Linked DNA regions of Homo sapiens: regions 2, 3 and 4 are each linked to region 1. Evidence: fine-mapped expression QTL. A gene starts in region 1. Each other region holds a variant in brackets. All regions are shown on one strand. Distances are between the middles of the regions. Region 1 holds the start of ZNF623 (zinc finger protein 623). Region 2 has its middle 23 kb from the start of ZNF623. Region 3 holds the start of BOP1 (BOP1 ribosomal biogenesis factor). Region 4 overlaps LOC105375799 (a long non-coding RNA gene).

Region 1 (5,145 bases):
CTCATGATCTGCCCGCCTCTAGAGAAAGTTTTTAAAATTGCAAATATCTTGCTTTGAAGAAACAGTTATCTCAAAAAGGAAATAGCTATCTTCAGTTTTTGCTTAACTTTTTCTTGTATGAATTTAAGTAAAATTAAATCAATACATTTTCATTTAAAGAAACTGACATGAAATGCAAAAAAAAGGAAGCCACCTGACTTGTGGCTCCACACAACAAACTGACTAGCATGGACCCATCTCCTGTTGTAACACAGAATTTGCTGGATAAAACATCACCTGAGGCCAGGCGCGGTGGCTCACGCCTGTAATCCCAGCAGTTTGGGAAGCCGAGGTGGGCAGATCACAAGGTCAGGAGTTCAAGACCAGCCTGACCAATATGGTGAAACCTCGTCTCTACTAAAAATACAAAAATTAGCCGGACGTGGTGCCGTGTGCCTGTAGTCCCAGCAACTCAGGAGGCTAAGGCAGAAGAATCACTTGAATCCGGGAGGCAGGGGGTGCAGTGAGCCGAGATCATGCCACTGCACTCCAGCCTGGGCGACAGAGCAAGACTCCGTCTCAAAAATAAATAAATAAATAAATAAATAAATATCACTTGAAATTGTCTCAACAGCAGATGTTGTGTATCATCAGCAGCCACAGCAGCTCTGGGGTGTCTAGGGGTGTCCCATCTGGCATTAGAAGCCCCCAGCTCTTGCACCCACACTGGTAAGGGGAAATTCCAGCCTCAAGCTCCCAGCCAGAGTCACTGTGTGTTGCTTACAGCCTGAAGAAATTAACAGGATACACCAAGCTTCACCCTCAGGAAACAGGAAAAGCAGAACCAGAGGGCAACCGAGTGAGACGTGGACTAGAGCTCCACTAACATCTGGACCTCCTTGCCCCGCGCCACACCAAGGGGCCTACTGGGCGCCACAGGCTAGGCAGGGAGCGCTTCTGTTCCTAGTGCTCCCCACGATGCCCCGGAAGTTCAGGGAGGTAAGAAGCGTAAGGTCAGAGAACTGGAGCCAGCTGTCAACTGCCCCCGCCCCACCCAGGCCATTTGGCTTCTGCTACCGGCATGCTGCTCAGGGCTCTGCCCAAGGACAACGACGAGCCCCCTGTGTCCTCTCCTGGGTCATCTTCCATGACCCTGAGGCAGCGAAGACAAGCTCGGCAGCTCCCTGAGCTGCTTCACACCAACTACCTATGAGTCTGAGGCCAGCATCCAGGCGCTGCCCAGACCCTGAGAGTCCCTGGACCATGACGTAGCCTGTGTGTGAAGGGAGCAAGACAGCCTTGACAGAAGCACAGAGAACGCCACTGGGATTCTTAAAGACGCGAAGGGAAAAGGGTACCTTCAAGAAAAAGCAGGACAGCGTAGCCACACCACCTCTCCCCATCTGGGAATTCTCCAGGTCCAAGTCTTGTACTTAATTCTAATTCTGCTCATCATGTTTCCCTCCCCACCCCTATCCCCAACAGCACAGAAGATGCTGGCGCTGCATCTCCTCCAGCACCGAGAGGCCTCGAGGCCCCAGGGAGCGGAGGCAGGGTTCAGGCACAGCCGCGGGAACGCCCACACCCAGTCCTGCCACACCGTAAAACATGTCTGCGGCATCAACCTCACGCAGGCCTGGCGGACCTGAAGACTGCGACACGGACACTCAAGCCCGCGGCTCTCCGGCCTGGGCTCAGGGCGGGGGGAAGGAGAGGGAACCAGGGGTACCCACACGGCGCTCCTCAGGGACAAGACCCCAGGCTCGGGCCCGAGGCGGGCTCGCTGGAGAGACGCCGCAGCCTCGCGGGGGCGGCCGTGGCTGCGTCCGGGAGACTGACTAGCCAAGGCCCCGCTCCTGGACGCCCTAGCGGGGCGGGCAGCGGCCTGCGGACCCCGCCCGGCCCTCTCGGCGGACTGTGCCCTGGCAAGGCGGCCGGGCTCCGGAGCCAGCCGGGGCTGCGGCTAAGGCGTTGCCCGCCCCCGTCCGGAACGCGCCACTCACCCGGCGCGGGCGGGGAGAGGACGGCGCGAGCCCGACCCTGCAGCCGCTGACTGGACCCCGCCGGCGCGGGCCCCACAGATCAGCCGACAAAGCCTGCACCGCCGCCAGCCCGCCGCGACCGGAAGTCGCGAGAGGCCCCGCCTGGGAAACTTCCTGCGCCGTTCTAGGAGCGCCAGGGATCGGCTCCCCTCTCAGTGGTGCGGACTTCCGGGCCCGGGGACTAAGACCCCCGGAGGGGCCAGGGGTGTCCGGCAGGAGCGGCGTTGCTACGCGGTTGGGAGGGTTGCGGGCCGGGAAGCGCGGGCTCGGAAACTCGGGTCTGGAGCTCGCGGCGAGGTCCGACCGCAGCCCAAGACCAGCTTCTCAGGAGGCGAGGATCCAGGGGAAGTAAATACCGTGAGGGCCAAACTTCACCTCTCTGCGCCCCAGAGAAGTGGGGAAGCGGCGCGCTGTGGAGTTTTTTGGTTTTCGGGTTTTGGTTTTTTTAAGACAGGGTCTCGCTCTGTCGCCCAGGCTGCAGTGCAGTGGCGCGATCTCGGCTCACTGCAGCCCCGACCTCCCGGGCTCAGGTGGTCCTCCCATCTCGGCCTCCCAAAGTGCTGGGACCAGAGGCGCGCGCCACCGCGCCGGCTCATTGATTCTTGGTAGACATTACTCATTGCTAGAATGAGTCACAGTCCGAAATAATCGAAATAATTACATTCCCCTGCCCCCCCCCCCCACCAAAAAAACATTATATTCGTATTTTGGGTTTTCTTTTTCCATTTTTCTGCTAGCACTGAGGAAACTTGTTTACCTAAATTGTTAGATAGGATTGGGAGGAATTTTGTTTTAGCAATGACGCTCAATTTATTTTTATTTTTATTTTTTGAGATGGACTCTCGCTCTGTCACCAGGCTGGAGTGCTGGAATGCAGTGGCGTGATCTCTGCTCACTGCAACCTATGGCTCCCTGATTCAAGCGATTCTCCTGCCTCGGCCTCTGGAGTAGCTGGGATTACAGGCATGCGCCACCACGCACAGCTAATTTTTGTATTTTTAGTAGAGACAGAGTTTCACCTTGTTGGCCAGGATGGTCTTGATCTCCTGACCTCGTGATCCACCCGCCTTGGCCTCCCAAAGTGCTGGGATTACAGGCGTGAACCGCTGTTCCCAGCCGACGCTCAATTTCTTTAGCTCTTTCTGACTTATATGCAAAAAACATAACAGCAGTTTATCACCAAGTGTACTTAATGACCTGTCAGTTGACCACTTGAATAGGTCCTTTTTAAATTTTGACAGAAGCAAACAAAGAATTAGAAGTAACCTAAAGTGCAAAACTACATGAAGTCTTTCCCAGCCAATAAATTCACCTACTTTCTTAAAATCAACTGCAGAGTTTTGAATTGTCCCTTTGATGAGGAGGACAGCCCAGGTACCAAGGCCAGGTACCAGGGTGAATAAAGGAAGAGAAGCAACGTGGGAGAAGGAGCTGTGGCCAAGGGGGACACGCTAGGCGCGTGCCCTCATCCAAGGACCTTCTACAGGAATTCCAGGGCAGAATCCATGTGGAACTCCTGCTGTGATTCTCCAGGGGCTCCCCGGCTCTTGGAAAGGCTTCTGTGTTCCAGGGGTGTGTGTGAAAGCCCTACATTGAGCGACCCCACCTCTCATCCAGGCCCGGAGACCTTGGCTGCTGCAACCCTATTGCCAGCTTACCATGGGACCCAGCTCTTAAGGCGAGAAGGGCTTGAGGCCTCTTCCCCACAGGGCTTACAGACCTTTCAGCCTCCCTGTCCGCAGGCCCAAAGAGCTTGAGAACACCGCCTGAGCAGGTTGTCACAGATCAAAATCTGCCTTGTACACCTGACGCCTGCCACTTCAACCCCACCAACAGCTAACACATGGCTGCAGCTTGGCACTTAATACTTTTTTTTTTTTTTTTTTTTTGAGACAGAGTCTCTCTCTGTCACCCAGGCTGGAGTGCAGTGGCGCGATCTCGGCTCACTGCAAGCTCTGCCTCCCGGGTTTATGCCATTCTCCTGCCTCAGCCTCCCGAGTAGCTGGGACTACAGGCACCCGCCACCACGCCCGGCTAATTTTTTGTTTTTTAGTGGAGACAGGGTTTCACCATGTTAGCCAGGATGTTCTCGATCTCCTGACCTCGTGATCCACCCGCCTCGGCCTTCCAAAGTGCTGGGATTACAGGCCTGAGCCACCATGCCCGGCTGGCACTTAATACTTTGAGTTTACTTGTTTGGTACTGATTGTCCCTGCCAGTAGAAAGGAAGCTCCGTAAGGTCAGGGACCCCCGTCTCGTTCCATGTCTAGCCCAGTGCCTGGCCCATGTGGACCTCAGCAACTGTGGTGGATGCTGCGATGAGAGGCCCCGGGAGACCCCTCCAGTGACAGGCTGGGTGTCCCAGTTGTTCAGGGTGTGGTAAGCGGCCTTCAGCCATCAGCTGCAACTCGCCAGGGTCACACCCTTCCCTGGGACAGCCCACATTGCAAAGTCCTGGACATCCTGGTCCAACCGAGGACAGCCCTGAGGACCACTTCTGTGGCAGAGCTCCCTGTGGGGGACCAGTAGCCGCTGTGCTTGATGGCATCACAGCCCCACTCCTGCCTCTTGTGTCTTCCCCTCCACAGGTCCAACATCACTCCGTGAAAGTCTGCTCCCCACCTAGGAGCCCCCTCGAGCCACAGCAGCCTTGCCAGGTGACTTCTAATATTATCTCCATTTTATAGATGAGGAAACAGAAATAGGGAAACCAAATGGCTCACCTAAGGTATCAGCCAGGACATGCTGGAGGAGGCCTCAGATGTAGCCATCTGCCTCCAAAGCCCTTGACCTAGAGCAAGTACAATGCCAAAACCAAGGAGTGTGGCTGGAAGGCAAAAGGCCCGAGGGGAGGCTGCCATGCAAGATGAGGCTGGCGCTGTTGCCATAACCAGAGCTCAAGAAAGGAAAGCTGTCCAAAGAAACTGCATTCAGCCAGAAAGGGAATTTATAGGGATTTGAGGGGACGGAGCCATTCTGAAGACAAAGCAGAAATTCTGATAAAAGATCCCAAAACATAGTTTCAAGCTATCTGGGATGTGGGGTTTAGGAAAACAGGCCATGGGTGGTCTTGGTACGGGAGCAAGCACAAAACTGTCTGGGAAATGTCCCTGAGGAAGGCCAC
Region 2 (5,145 bases), 23 kb before region 1:
GAGTGAAGGAGCAGGAAGGCACCAGCAAACAGGGCCACAGCGCCCCGAAGGCGAGTGAAGGAGCAGGAAGGCACCAGCAAACAGGGCCACAGTGCCCCGAGGGCAACAGGAAGCAAATTTCACCTAAAATTGCAATTCCTGGCTAGGAGGGATGGCTCACGCCTGTCATCCCAGCACTTGGGGAGGCCGAGTTGCGTGGATCACCTGAGGTCAGAAGTTTGAGACCAGCCTGGCCAACATGGTGAAACCCCATCTCTACTAAAAATACAAAAATTAGCCGGGCGTAGTGGTGGACACCTGTAGTCCCAGTTATTCGGGAGGCTGAGACAGGAGAATTGCTTGTATCTGGAAAGTGGAGGTTGCAGTGAGCAGAGATCATGAGACTACACTATAGCATGGGCAACAGAGTGAGACTCTGTCTCAAAAAATAATAATGAAAACAAAAATAAATAAATAAAATTAGAATTCCTCTTGGTGTGGGAGGGTGGCAGAAAAACATTGTAAGAAACTGTGGGCTGGGTGCGGTGGCTCACGCCTGTCATCCCAGCACTTTGGGAGGCCGAGGCGGGTGGATCACCCGAGGTCAGGAGTTCAAGACCAGCCTGGCCAACATGGCAAGACCCTGTCTCTACTAAAAATACAAAAAAATTAGCTGGGTGTGGTGGCAGGCGCCTGTAATCCCAGCTACTCGGGAGGCTGAGGCAGGAGAATTGCTTGAACCTGGGAGGCAAAGGTTGCGGTGAACCGAGATCGTGCCATTGCACTCCAGCCTGGGCAACAAGAGTGAAACTCCGTCTCAAAAAAAAAAAAAATAGAAACTGTGATGGAAAAGATTCCAAATAAAACGAAAATAATAGAGCTACAAATCCAAGATCAATAACCCCCAAGAAGGATAAAAACAAAGAAAGCCACACCAAGGCACATCATAATCAAACAGCTACAAGCCAGTGATAAAGAGAAAATCTTACAAGCACTCAGAGGCAAAGTAAATTACATATTATATATCCAGCAACATCCTTCAAAAATGAAGGCGAAATCAAAATATTTTCCAAAGATAAAAGTTGAAAGAACTTGGCCGAGCATGGTGGCTCACACCTGTAATCCCAGTAGTCTGGGAGGAGGCCAAGGCGGGAGGATTGCTTGAGCCTAGGAGTTCCAGACCCGCCTGGGCAACATAACGAGACCCTTTTTTTTTTTTTTTTGGAAAAAAAAAAAGAGCCAGGCATGGTGGCTCATGTCCATGTCATCCCAGCACTTTGGGAGGCTGAGGGGGGCAGATCACCTGAGGTCAGGAGTTTGAGACCAGCCTGGCCGTCATGTTGAAACCCCATCTCTATTAAAAATACAAAAAATTAGCCGTGCATTGTGGTGGGCACCTGTAATCCCAGCTACTCGGGAGGCTGAGGCAGGAGACTCACTTGAACTGGGAGGCGGAGGCTGCAGTGAGCCAAGACCACGTCATTGCACTCCAGCCTGGGCAACAAGAGTGAAACTCCATCTCAAAAAAAAAGGAAAGAAATTTAATCTCCAGTCTCCAATGTGGCAGTACTGAGAGGTAAGGCCTTTAAGGGGGTGACTGAATCACCAGGGCTCTGCTCTCATTTGTGGATTAATAGATCAATGGGTTACCAGGGAGGGGATCTGAAGGCTTTGTAAGAAGAGGAAGAGACCTGAGCTATCCCGTAAGTATGCTCAGCGCCTCACCATTGATGTCCCGCACCATCTCTGGACTTTGCAGAGTCCCCACTAGCAAGAAGACTCTCACCAGATGCGGCCCCTTGACCTTGGACTTCTCTGCCTCCATAGCTGTAAGAAATAAAATCTTTTCTTTTATAAATTACCCAGTTTCAGGCCAGGTATGGTGTCGCACACCTGTAGTCCCAGCTACTCGGGAGGCTGAGGCAGGAAGATCACTTGAGCCCAGAGGTTTGAGGTTGCAGTGAGCTATTGTGGCATCATTACCCTCTAGCCTGGGTAACAGAGTGAGATTCTGTCAGACAAACATAAATAATCCAGTTGCAGGGATTCTGTTGTAGGCAACAGAAAATGGACTAAGACAGAAAATTGGTACTGAGAGTGAGGTGCTGCTAATAAAAAATAACCAAAAATGTAGAAGCAGCTTTGAAACTGAGTAATGGGCAGAAGCTGCAAGAATTTGGGGGAGCAGGCTAGAAAAGGCCTAGATTCTGGTGAGGGCTTAGAAGACAAGACTAGGGAAAGACTGGACCTCTTTAGAGATCCATTAAGTGGTCACAACCAGAACGCAGATAGAAGTATGAACTATAAAGGCCATTCTGATGAAGTTTCAGATGGAACGGAGGCACAAAGTGTTGGACAGTGAAGTAAAGGTCATCCTTAATATAAATTGGCAACGAGCTTCGCTGAATTGTGTCCATGCCTCGGGCTTTGAGGAAGGTCAAACTTAAGAGTGATGAACTAGGATATCTGGAAGAAAAAAAGAGGAGCTGCTGGTGGCCGGGCGTGGTGGCTCACACCTGTAATCCCA[A/G]CACTTTGGGAGGCCAAGGCAGGCGGATCACCTGAGGTCGGGAGTTCGAGACCAGCCTGGCCAATGTGGAGAAACCCCATCTCTACTAAAAATACAAAATAAGCTGGGTGTGGCGGCACATGCCTGTAATCCCAGCTACTCGGGAGGCTGAGGCAGGAGAATCGCTTGAACCCGGGAGGCAGAGCCTGCGGTGAGCCGAGATCACACCATTGAACTCCAGCCTAGGCAACAACAGCAAAACTTCATCTTAAAAAAAAAAAAAAAAAAAAAAAGAAGGAGCTGCTGGTTACTTTTGGCCTCTTATGCTGAGCTTTGAGAGTAAAGGAATAGTTTAAAAACAGAATTTATAAATTAAAAGGAAGCAGAGTGGAAAGATTTGGAAAACTCAGCCTGGCCATGTAGAGTAAAAGTATGTTCAGCAGAGGAAACCAAGGGTATAGCCCAGTGAAGTTTGTGAAAGAAATTAGCTTGGGTAGAAGGGAGCCAGGTGCAATTCTCCCAAGACAATGAAACTAAGTCCCAGCAGGCATTTCAGATTATCGAGGCTGCCTCTCCCATCAGAGGCTCAGAGGCCTAGGAAGGCAGAATGTTTTCGGGGGACAGACCCCAGGAGCCCTCCACAAGCTCACCCAGGGCCACCTTAGGACTCTGCTCTGGGCACCACAGCCGTTGTTCAAGTAGCCCCAGATGTGAATGCCTCACTCCAGAACACACAAGCCCTAAACCTTGGTGGCATCCATGTGGTGCTAGTTCTGCTGGCTTAGGGAAAGCCAGAGCTGTGAAGGCTTGGCAGCCTCCATCCAGATTGCACAGGATACCACTGAAAGCTGAGGGGCCAGGCAGAGACTTGTAGCAGGGGTGGAGGCACTACAGAGAACCCCCACTAAAGCAATGCTGAGTGGAAATGAGTTGGAGGTGCTGGAGAGTCCCCACCAGGGTAATGTCTAGCGAGCCATGGGAGTGGGACCACCACTGGGACCCAAGAACCGTGGAGTCACTGGCAGCATGCATGCTTGCCTGGAAAAGCTTCAGGCACCAGACTCTAACCCATAGGAGGTAGAGCAAAGCCATAGAGTGGGGGTGCCTGAGGCCTTGGGGACCCAACCCTCGCCCTGGGGTGTCCAGGAAGTGGCACATGGAGTCAAGAGATGATTCTCCAACTTCAGGATTTAATGCCTTCCCTGCAGGGTTTTGGACTTGCTTGGGACCTGCTAACCCTTTCTTATTGCTTACCCCTCCCTGATGGAGTGGGAATGTCTGCCTTTTGCCTGTCACCATCATTGTATCTCGGAAGTAGATAACTTATTTGATTTCACAGGCTCACAGATGAGACTCTGGACTCTGGACTTTTGATTCAGTGCTGGAATAAAATCTGGGGACTATGGGATTGCAACAAATCTGTTTGAGAAGGACATGAGTTTTGGACAGAATGCTGAGTATCTGCCCCTCCAAAACTCATGTAGAAATTTCATCCCCAATATGGCAGTACTGAGAGGTGGCGTCTAAGACGTGATTGGATCATGAGGGTGAAGCTCTCAGATGAATTAATCTACTCTGGCTGGGCGCGGTGGCTCATGCCTGTAATCCCAGCACTTTGGGAGGCCGAGGCAGGCGAATCATGAAGTCAAGGGTTTGAGACCAGCCTGGTCAACATGGTGAAACACCCGTCTCTACTAAAAATAGAAAAAATTAGTTTGGCATAATGGTGGGTGCCTGTAATCCCAGCTACTCAGGAGGCTGAGGCAGGAGAATTGCTTGAACCCAGGAATCAGAGGTTGCAGCGAGCTGAGATCTCACCACTGCGCTCCAGCTCGGGCGACAGAGTGAGCCACTGCGCCCTGCCAGAGGAGATCCTTTTAAATATAATTAAAATAGAATGTCGAATAAAATGTAGTGGAATGTTTTGAACTTTATGCCAATAATTCACTGTTTTACATGAAATGAATAATTCTTTGAGAGATAAAAGTTACCAAACTTGGCACAAGAAGAAATAGAAAAACCTGAACTGTTACAGCTGTTTAAAAAAATTGAATTTATGGCTGGGCACAGTAGCTCACTCCTGTAATCCCAACATTTTGGGAGGTCAAGGTGGGCAGATCACGAGGCCAGGAGTTCAAGACCAGCCTGTGCAACATGGTGAAACCCTGTCTCTACTAAAAATACAAACACCTGGGCATGGTGGCACGCACCTGTAGTTCCAGCTACTCGGGATGCTGAGGTGGGAGAATCGCTTAAACCTGGGAGACAGAGGTTGCAGTGAGCCGAGACCATGCCACTGCACTCCAGCCTGGGTGACGGAGTGAGACTGGGTCTCAGAAAAAAAAAAGGAAAGAAAAGAAAAGAAAAAAGAGAGAGAGAAAGAGAGAGGGAGGGAAGGAAGGAAAGAAGGGAAGAAAACATTTAAGGAAGAAATAATAGTATCAATATTACATAAACAACTTCAGAAAACAGAAGAGGATAGAATAATTCGCAATTCTTTGGGAGTAACAGTATCCTGATATCAATACAAGGACATACTCTTACCAATTCTAAGGAAAACGGAACAAGATGCCCTAGTCAGTACAATAAGAAAAAGGAACAAAGTCCATATAAATTGGAAAAGTAAAATACTTTATTCACAGATGACATGATTATCTACA
Region 3 (5,130 bases), 650 kb before region 1:
GGCTAACGCCGTCGCCGCGCCAGCCTTCCGGGCCGCGCCGCCGCCCGCTGCGCACACACAGCCCCGGGGCCCAGCATGGCCGCCGCCATCTTGCAACGGGCGCGCTCCCGCCGCCGCCGCTGCCGCCCTCCCGCGTCACCCCCGGCGCGAGCACGCAGGCCCCGACCCCGCCCTGGTCCCCGGCCCAGCCGCGCGCCTGCGCGTGTTGGTCCCACCCCCTTCCCTCCACCCGCCAATCGGGGCCGGGCTGGGCGGGGCGCGTCCTCCTGCGCACGCGGCCCGGTCGCTGTCGGAAGCGGCTGTGCGGGTGGCGGCCGGCGCGCGGTGGGGCATGGCGGGTTCGCGGGGTGCGGGGCGCACGGCGGCGCCGAGCGTGCGGCCGGAGAAGCGGCGGTCTGAGCCCGAACTGGAGCCTGAGCCCGAGCCGGAGGTGACTGTGGCGATGCGGGGCGGCGGGGCGCGTCCCTAGAGGGCCCGGCGGGCACGTGGCCGCGCTGGGGCGGGTGGGCCCGGCTTCTGTCACCTGGGCGCCCGCGCCCAGTGAATCGGTCTTGGGCGTGGGTGCAGCTCCTCTATCGGGGGGTCTCAGGCAGAGCGGACTGCGGGGTAAAGGACGGCGTCCGGGAAGCAAAGAAACGGGGGAGCGGGGAGTGGGGACGGGGCGCCCCTTGCAGCAGCCTCTCCAGCCGTTCCATTTGTGCATCCTGCCAATAAAAGGGCTCGGCTTGCGCTCCCAGTAAATGCTTAACCTACGTATACGCTAGTTAATTGCGTTTTTATGCTCATGGGATAGACATGAGAATAAGAAAACCTGAATAGAACCCAGTGTCTGCTGCATTTGCTGTATTAGAACTCACTGTTGCTCTCTGCTAGCTCAGCCCTGTCTTGGTTGTGGGGATCATCAAATTGGGTGGTGGAGGGGATGGACAGCCAGCCCCTCACAGCCCCCTCGGCCGCGGCCGCGCTGGGTTGTTGAAACTGCCCCATTGCTTTGTGAAGCGAATTCAACTCATCCTGGCTCCCATGGGCTGAATGGCCCGCAGGCCACTCTAGGCGCCAGGTTCTGCGACTTCCACCCTTGGACTAAACGGTCCTCAGGAGCCAGTTGTTTGCGCCCAGGCCACGGATGCCATTTCCACTAGTTATTGTGATTGTGTAGCCGACTGAATACCAAGACACATCATGACTCTGTGTGAGAGAGGCATTGTGTGAACACTCGGTATGCAATAGCTAATACATGCAGGTCGTACCTTAAGTGAGACTTGTAAACTATTAGGAAAACAGTAAAATCTAGAATTCTGCATTCAACTGCTTCCTTTTTCTTTTCTTTTCCTTTTCTTTCTTTTTTCTTTTTTTTTTTTTTGAGACAGAGCCTGGCTCTGTTGCCCAGGCTAGAGTGCAGTGGTGCAGTCTTGGCTCACTGCAGCTTCCACCTCCTGGCTAACTCAGCCTCCTGAGTAGCTGGGATTAGAGGTGCCCGCCACCACCAGCTAATTTTTGTATTTTTAGTAGAGATGGTTTCACCATGTTGGCCAGGCTGGTCTTGAACTCCTGACCTCAGGTGATCCACCCGCCTCAGCCTCCCAAAGTGTTGGGATTACAGGAGTGAGCCACTGTGCCTGGCCTTCAACTGCTTCCTAAGAGTCTAAGTTCTTGTTCCACCCTTTAAGGCCAGTGAAGGACCCGAACACTGTGTGTGCCGGTGTCACGCAGCCAGCAGGGCTCTGCTCAGAGGCAGCTGTGGTCCTGCTCAGAGAGAGGAGTGGGTGGGTTGGTGCGTGGTTGCGGTTAGAGTCTCTATCATTCCTGTGACTCTTCAGCCAATCCTTTCAATTTACTGATCAATCGTTGGTCCCAATCTGGTTAAATGAGGAGGCGTCTGCTTCAGGTGGTAAAAGCCCTTTGGGGACCCATTTCTCTTCCAGCCCCCAGCCCCTTTTCTAGTGACCTCTTGGCTCTGGGGCCTTGGATGCCAGGGTGAGGTGTGGAGAGGGCTCAGGCAGGCTGTCTGAGGGACCCAGTGGAGTCCAGCCCAGCCTGACCCCACAGGGCCTCCGGAGTGTCAGTGGGTGGTAGAGAGCAGTGTTAGTTTTGCGATGAGAGCTGAGCTCCAAGAGGAGGAGGTTGTCCTTGAAAAGCCCCTTCCCTGTGAGGTGCTAGGAATTAAAATGTCGATGGCAAAGGCAAGAGGCTGTCTTGTCAGTGGAGGTAGAAGATGAGGAAGGCTCAGGTTGGGTGGATGCTTTTGGTGGAAGTTTGTGACTGGAGGGGTGTGGTCCTGGAGGCCACATGGAGCTGCTGGTGGGTGGCTGGAGGGGCGAGAGGCAGCTCTCCCTGCAGTGTTCAGTGCCCCATGCCTGGAGGGGCAGTTGTCACCAACCCAGTGTTTCCTTGCAGCCCCCCCTCCTCTGCACCTCTCCTCTCAGCCACAGCACCGGCAGCGATTCTGGCGTCTCCGACAGCGAGGA[A/G]AGTGTGTTCTCAGGCCTGGAAGATTCCGGCAGTGACAGCAGTGAGGATGATGACGAAGGCGACGAGGAGGGAGAGGACGGAGCCCTTGATGACGAGGGCCACAGTGGGATTAAAAAGACCACTGAGGAGCAGGTGCAGGTGGGTGAGCGAGGAGCCCCCTCGAGGGCTGTCCCCCATGTGCAGGTGGCCTTGGGCTTTCTGAGACTGCCACTGTACTGCCTTCTCCACCGTCCCTCAGAACCCCAAGGCCGGCGTCCCTCCTTCACTGCACCTGGGGCACGCTTGGGCTCTAGGACGCTGGTTTCCATCCCCAGTTGCGTGCCGTTCCCAGGAACTCTGAAAATCCACATGCCTAGGCCCTTCCCCGTCAGACGATGCTCGGGCAACCCTCCTGGCAACAGGTTGGGTTTCCTTGAGGTGGGGATTTTACTGCTTGGAATCCAGTGGCAGGACCCAGCTGAGGAGGGAGCTGAGCAGCATGGCAGGGCTCAAGCAGGCGGCATGGGGGCCCCAACGGAACCCAGCTGGGCCTGACCCCACAGGGCTTCAGGGGCCTGAGCAGCCGACGGGTAGAGGGTTTAACATTGTACCTGTTGCAGCGATGGTGGGGGAGGATGCACCCTACTCTTATTGAGAACAACAGGAGAAAAGCATAATTTAACTAAAACACAGCATTTGTTATTTTTTTTTATTTTTTATTTTTTTGAGACAGAGTCTCACTCTGTCGCCCAGGCTGGAGTGCAGTGGTGTGATCTTGGCTCACTGCAACCTCCATCCCCTGGGTTCAAGTAATTCTCCTGCCTCAGCCTCTCTAGTAGCTGGGATTACAGGTACATGCCATCACGCCCGGCTAATTTTTGTACTTTTAGTAGAGACAGGGTTTTGCCGTGTTGGCCAGGCTGGTCTCGATTTCCTGACCTCAGGTGAGCCACCACGCCCGGCCTATTTTTTTTTTTTTTTTCTAAGACAGAGTCTTGCTCTGTTGCCCAGGCTGGAGTGCAGTGGGGCGATCTTGGCTCACTGCATCTTCCACCTCCTGGGTTCAAACAATTCTCCTGTCTCAGCCTCCTGAGTAGCTGGGATTACAGGTGCCCACTACCAGGCTCGGCTAATTTTTTTTTGTATGTTTAGTAGTGACGGGGTTTCACCATGTTGGCCAGGCTGGTCTCGAACTCCTGACCTCAAGTGATCTGCCTGCCTTGGCCTCCCAAAGTGCTGGGATTACAGGTGTGAGCCACCGCGCCCAGCCCAGCATTTGTTACTCTAAACATTCTGGAAATCGTTTGTAAGGATTTACTCTCCCAGTAGTTTCGGTGTTCTGGAAGTTACGGCCTTGGCAGAGGTCCCCGTGATAGAAGCCAAGGAACCATGGCTTGTTCATTGTGTGCTAGCTGTGTTGGGTTGGCTTGTTTGCTGGGAAGAAAAGATTTAAAATCACACTTAATTCAGGCTTTAATTATACCACTAACATACACAGAGAAAAAATGATGTGCTGTGTTGGCAGTGGTTTGTAAGATTATGGACAACTACGTTACCCCTTCTTGAGTTTTTAAAATGATACAATACTGGGCCAGGCACAGTGGCTCATACCTGTAATCCCAGCAGCTCGAGAGGCCAAAGTGGGAGGATCTCCTGAGCCCAGGAATCCAGGTCACAGTGAGCTATGATAGAGCCACTGCACTCCAGCCTGGGTGACAAGCAAGACCCTGTTTCAAAAAAAAATTATGAGATAAAACATCCTGGAAAATAATGTAGATATTGTAGCAGCACCATTCAGTAGGGTGGAAGCTCCCACTCAGGGCCCTCACACCTAACCCGTGAGCACAGTTAGTGGTCTGGTGTACATCTTTCTGGGTCTTCTGTCCCTTTTTAAATTAAGGATTTACACATTTACATGTTAATGATTTTTTTATTAAATTCTTTCAGCGGGCGTGGTGGCTCACGCCTGTAATCCCAGCACTTTGGGAGGCTAAGGTGGATGGATCACCTGAGCTCAGGAGTTCAAGACCAGCCTGGCTAACATGGTGAAACCCTGTCTCTACTAAAAATATAAAAATTAGCTGGGCGTGGTGGCGCGTGCCTGTAATCCCAGCTACTCGGGAGGCTGAGGCGTTAGAATCACTTGAACCTGGGAGGCGGAGGTTGCAGTGAGCCGAGATCTCACCACTGCACTCCAGTCTGGGTGACAGAGTGAGGCTCTGCCTCAAAAACCAAAACAATGTTTTCGCATAATAACATATCCAAGTACTTGAAAGGTACTAGAGGTGTCTGCGGAGTCTAGGGAGGCGCCATCTTCTCTTCTCGCTGCTTGTCTCCTGGCCCCTGGAGCACCAGGTCCTCTGCACTGCTGAGTGTGTGCTTGTCCTGCCCATTGCCCTGCTCGGGTTTCTGTGACCGCGTAACTGGCTGCCCCATGCAGGGTGTTTTCCAAAGTACCGCTGTCTGTGGTCTGTGTGCTCCGTCATCCAGCAGGGCCTGAGGTGGCAAGGCCGGCCGGGCTGGTGGGGCGGTCCTCAGAGTTCCCCACGCTGCTGGCTGCCCAAGTCCCTGCCTGAGGCCCTGCCCTGTTGTGGCGCTCATGCACCTGCCCGCGTGTCCTGTGCTTTAGCTGAGGGGCCGAGGCCCTGCCCTGCCATGGCGCCCGTGCATCTGCCCGCGTGT
Region 4 (5,145 bases), 30 kb before region 1:
CAAGTTACTTTACCTTTCTGCATCAGGGCGCAATCAATCAGCAGACAGAAACTGCACAGTCATTTGGGCAAGGAACGTTTAATATAAAGGATTATTTACTATAATGGAATTATCTGTACAGGGCTAAAGATAATGCAAAAGAATACTCTGGGCTGACAGAGAGTTCCCAAGGAAGGAGAAAATGTGAAAGATGGCCTCCTCCCCAAGGCTGGGGCTCAAATCTTGGAAAAGGTGTGGTTGCAGAGATGCTGTTTGGTGCAGTATGGATGATGGAGAGGTTCTCTGGTTTTCCCGTAGCCAGAGCTGGTCCACAGTCAATGGGCAATCACTCCTGCAGGTGTAGAGGGGTTGAAGGTGGCAGGTAGGGAGCCTGGCCAGGACTGGCAAGCAGGAAACACCTCTCTGGGGCAGGCTGAGGCTGGATGCTGACCAGTGGAGCATCTGCAAGACTCACGGGGATCCACCCATGGCATTGCAAGTGAAGTTGGCTGGGGGTGAGCAACACTGAGTGTGCTGGCAGCCACATGGCAGGAACAAGAAGAAAACAGAAGAAAGTGCAGAACAGGAAGAGAAGCACTTTCCTCCTGCAGGGTCCCTCCAGTGCCCTCTACTTACAAAGCTTAACGTCATACCTGCTTTAAAGGAGAAACAATTTAGGGCCCAGCTCCATTTTCACCAAGCAGGCGATGAAGTATGTATTTGAAGCTGAAAGACAGTAAATGGAGAATTGGCAGTTTCAAGCCTCAGTTGGGCCCTTGGTTTTCTCAGTACTCACTCTGTGCCTCCCAACAACTAATCTTCTTTCTGATTCTCCAAGTAGCTCTTTCAACACTCCGTAAAAATCCTATCCACCATCTTTCTTCCCACTTGGAAGAAAACCTTGCCTTTTTTTTTTTTTTGACAGGGTCTCACTCTGTCATTCAGGCTGGAGAGCAGTGGTGCGATCTTGGCTCACTGCAACCTCATCCTCCTGGGCTCAAGAAATCCTCCCACCTCAGCTGCTTGAGTAGCTGAGACAACAGGTGCATGCCGCCACGTCTGGCTAATTTTTGTATTTTTTGTGGACACGAGATTTTGCCATGTTGGCCAGGCTGGTGTCAAACTCCTGGGCATCTGCCTGCCTCAGCCTTCCAAAGTGCCAGGATTATAGACCTGAGCCACCAAGCCTGGATCTTGTCTCTTATTTTACAGGGAAAATACATAATAATGTGTGTTTGATTACAATTGAATAATGCAGGCTTTGGGAAATCCACCTGTTATGGGTTGATTTGTTTCCCCCCAAATTGAAATGCTGAACCTAATGCCCGGTACCTGAGAATGTGATTGGATTTGGAGATAGGGCCTCTAAAGAGGTAGTAAAGTTAAAATGGGGCCTTTGGGTGGGCCCTAACCTGATCTGACTAGGGTCCTTCTAAGAGGAGGAAATTTGGATGCACAGAGAGACATGGGATGTGTGTTTGCACAGAGGGAGGGAGGGCCTTGCGGGGACACAGCATGGGATGTGTGTGCACATGGAGGGAGGTAGGGCCTCGAGGGGACACAGCATGGGATGTATGTGCACATGGAGGAAGGAGGGAGGGCCACGCATGGACACAGCGTGGGATGTACATGCACACGGAGGAGGGAGGGCCACGTAGGGACACAGGATGGGATATGTGTGCACATGGAGGGAAGGAAGGCCTCACGGGGACACAGGATGGGATGTGTGTGCACACGGAGGGAGGGAGGCCACGCATGGACACAGCATGGGATGTGTGTGCACACAGAGGAGGGAGGGGCACGCAGGGACACAGGATGGGATGTGTGTGCACACGGAGGGAGGGAGGCCACGCATGGACACAGCATGGGATGTGTGTGCACACAGAGGAGGGAGGCCACGCGGGGACACAGGATGGGATGTGTGTGCACACAGAGGAGGGAGGGGCACGCAGGGATACAGCATGGGATGTGTGTGCACACGGAGGAGGGAGGGGCACGCAGGGACACAGGATGGGATGTGTGTGCACACAGAGGAGGGAGGGGCACGCAGGGACACAGGATGGGATGTGTGTGCACACGGAGAGAGGGAGGCCACGCATGGACACAGCATGGGATGTGTGTGCACACAGAGGAGGGAGGGGCACGCAGGGACACAGGATGGGATGTGTGTGCACACGGAGGGAGGGAGGCCACGCAGGGATACAGCATGGGATGTGTGTGCACACGGAGGAGGGAGGGAGGCCACACAAGGACACAGCAAGAAGGCGGCCATCGGCAAGCCAAGGAGAGGAGCCTCCGGCAAAACCCAACCTGGGACACTTTAGTCTCTTCTGGCTTCCGGAACTGTGAGAGAATAATTAATTTCTGTTGTTAAGTAACCTACTCTGCAGTATTTTTAATGGCACCCTGGTGTAACTAACATACTACTGGTGTTGGAGTATTTTATAACTTGTGGAGGCCATGGAAGCATCCCCCGCGCTGTCAGGGAGGCAGAATGTCCTGTGAAAGGAACAAAATCACTTTGGACACACCTGGCAACTGGGCAAAACCTCAACTGGTTCCTTGATCAACAGAGTGAGTCTTGTAGTGGGAAAATCAAAGTGGAAGCTCCTGCAACTCTACCCTCTGTGGAGAATGGCAGGCGTTAAGGCCACCTGTGAAGACGTAAAAGATCCGCACTCGCCTTGCTCCCATCCCCCTCGTCCCCAGGCTCCTCGTCCCAGTGCCCCTAGTCCCTGTGCCCCTCGTCCCCACCCACCTTCTTCCTGTCCCTTGTCCCCACCCACCTCATCCCCATCCCCCTTGTTTCTGTCCCCCTCATCCCCGCCCACCTTATCCCCATCCCTCTCATCCCCATCCCCCTTGTCCTCATCCTTCTTGTCCCCGTCCCCTTATCCACCTTGTTCCTGTCCCCTTAATTCACATCCCCCTTTACCCTGCCCTCCTTGTCCCCATCCCCCTTATCCCTGTCCCTCTTGTCCCCACCCGCCTTGTTCCATCCCCCTCATCCCCATTCCCCTTGTCCCCATACACTCCCTTGTCCCTGTCCCTCTTGTTCTTGTCCCCCTTGTCCCCATCTGCCTGTCCCCACCC[G/A]CCTTACAATCTGGAAACCCAACCCCTGCGGAAGCTGCATGACCGTGGTGGACAGCAGTGGACTACCACAGGCTTAAACAGTAGTAGCTGAGGCACGCTTGTGGCCATCCACATGGTCTTTCCAGAAGAGACTGATGTGGCCACGTGCATGTGGTTTTTGGCTACTGGTCTGATAAACACATCATTTCCGAAACCTGTTTGGAAGGGGAATCGGAGCAGTTCCTGCCCACGCGGGGCCAACAGCGGCACACAGGTACGGTCGCTCCAGAACCGAGTGGGGTGCCTCGTCCCAACATGGCCCAAAGGCCTGACCCACTGGATGGTCCACGAGCAAAGGTTGGCCCATTCAGTGGATGCCTTAATGGGCACTGGACTCATGCAGAGATAGCAGGTGCGCTGATGGCCTCAGAAAAACACGGGCGCTGTGGAGGGCAGGAGGCAGACTCCGTACACTTCAGAGACCTGCCCCATGAGCAATGTTCTCAGGGTGCGGTGGCCTGTAGGGTGCTGGGGCAGGCCCGATGCCTCTTTGGGCTTGAAGGCAATATGTTCTGCCCTTGGCGGGGGAGAGGGAAAGCCGTCGGCTCTGAGTGGGGTCTGGAGCAAGGGAAGGGGCTGAGGCAGGCCCAGGCTGGGTGACAGGCAGTCCTGCCACGTGGGTCATGTGGCCGTGAAGTTCCCACAGGCTTCACATGTGTGGCAAAGACACGAGTGGCGCCCATGACGAGCCTCAGTGCAGGATGTGCAGCCCAGGCCCAAGGCCACCGGCGCAGGGCCCCGTCATGTTCAGGGGACTCCACCAGCTGGTAGGTGGTGCGGGCAAGTGTTCGGGCCCTGACCGTGGAGGCCACGGTGTTTATGAGACTGGCGCTGCCCATCGTGACTGGGTGCTGTCGGAGCTACCAGTCGCACATCCAAGGGGCCGTCAGGAGTTTACTGGGAGATGGAAGTGGAGTCCAAGATTGGGCTTGGGCAGGTCCAGAAGGCACAAGGATGGCCCAGGTCCCCGTGCCACCCTCTATTCTCCACTGGGCCTCTCCCCAAGCCCATGCCTGTGGCTCCATGGGGAGGTCCCCGAGCCCTGCTGCAGGAGACGGGTAGTCTCGTACCTGGCTTACGGGGGGGCCCGGTGTGCTCTGTGGCCCTCCAGTCAGAGCAGGGCTCCTGCAGCAAGGCAGTCGGTGAAATGCAGCTCCAGCCCACCTCACAGTGGCCCAGTGGGTCCCTGAACCCAAAAGGCAACACTAGAGCTCCACAGCCTAGAAGCCGCACACCGCAGCGCGCCGTCTTCACCCTTCCTTGGCTATGAGCTCTTCCAGGCAGCACAAAGCACAGGGAAATGCCCCAGGGTGACGATGTGACTGCTTGCAGCCTGCTTTCAAAAAGAACGCCAGGAACACAGGCAGGAAAGGTGGGCAGGAGAGAGAATGAGACTGATAGCCACCAGGTAGCTGACTCCAAATTAATAGGATTGTCAACTCCTTACCAATTTATATTTACCGGTTACATAAAAAATGGTACAGTGACCTCCCCTTCCAGCCATGATTAACAAGTATTGGACTTGCCCTCCTGCCCTAAACTAGAAAGCTGGACAAAATCCATGCAACAGCTGCTGTTAGATGTTGGAGGGTGCAGTGCTGTGACCTGCCCAGGAGGATGGAGATGGGGGGGGCACCTCCCATGATGCCAGCTCTCTGCCTGGTGGCATTTTCTAGAATACAGCATATGAAGGGGAAACACAGGCATGGTATCAACTCACTAAGTTGAGGAGGCAGAGGTTGGACTCTGGGGAGGTACAGAAGGCTCGCATTTATGGGGTCCAGTACGAGAAAGAAACTGGGACCCATGAAGAGGAAGTCCCCAGTGCTGCCATGAGTGTTTGGATGAACGTTAAGCTGCACACACCATGGGGCCAGGCCACAAGCCACGGGGAGCTGACAGCAGACAATCCCCAAATAGCTTGCAGGCCTGGGAGGTGCTCAAAGTGTGATGAGCCAGAGTGGTGGGCCTTGCTGCCCAGTGGCGGCACTCAGTGAGAACTGCGAAGGGTCCAGCCCTACCAGGAGCACGGCT

The links.
Region 2: its variant is fine-mapped to the expression of ZNF623 in whole blood (INTERVAL, PIP 0.98).
Region 3: its variant is fine-mapped to the expression of ZNF623 in gastroesophageal junction (GTEx, PIP 0.98).
Region 4: its variant is fine-mapped to the expression of ZNF623 in gastroesophageal junction (GTEx, PIP above 0.99). The same link has a PIP of 0.9 or more in monocytes after Pam3CSK4.

What each region holds. Positions count from the first base shown.
Region 1 is chr8:143,632,983-143,638,127 of GRCh38, reverse strand. ZNF623 (zinc finger protein 623) reads right to left here and starts at 2,109. Exons shown (of 2, transcript NM_001261843.2): 1 at 1,983-2,109. It overlaps LOC105375798 (a long non-coding RNA gene), which reads left to right and starts at 4,224. Exons shown (of 3, transcript NR_188083.1): 1 at 4,224-4,678.
Region 2 is chr8:143,656,370-143,661,514 of GRCh38, reverse strand. No RefSeq gene overlaps it. Among named protein-coding and RNA genes, the nearest start is that of ZNF623, 23 kb to the right of the region's middle. The variant A/G (reference allele first, on the strand shown) is at 2,507.
Region 3 is chr8:144,286,572-144,291,701 of GRCh38, reverse strand. It overlaps BOP1 (BOP1 ribosomal biogenesis factor), which reads left to right and starts at 264. Exons shown (of 16, transcript NM_015201.5): 1 at 264-430; 2 at 2,398-2,607. The coding sequence starts at 332. HSF1 (heat shock transcription factor 1) reads right to left here and starts at 98. Exons shown (of 13, transcript NM_005526.4): 1 at 1-98. RefSeq lists a silencer at 21-520. The variant A/G (reference allele first, on the strand shown) is at 2,469.
Region 4 is chr8:143,663,405-143,668,549 of GRCh38, reverse strand. LOC105375799 (a long non-coding RNA gene) reads right to left here. Exons shown (of 4, transcript XR_928737.3): 1 at 4,182-5,145; 2 at 2,511-2,633; 3 at 633-705; 4 at 63-331. Among named protein-coding and RNA genes, the nearest start is that of ZNF707, 19 kb to the left of the region's middle. The variant G/A (reference allele first, on the strand shown) is at 3,073.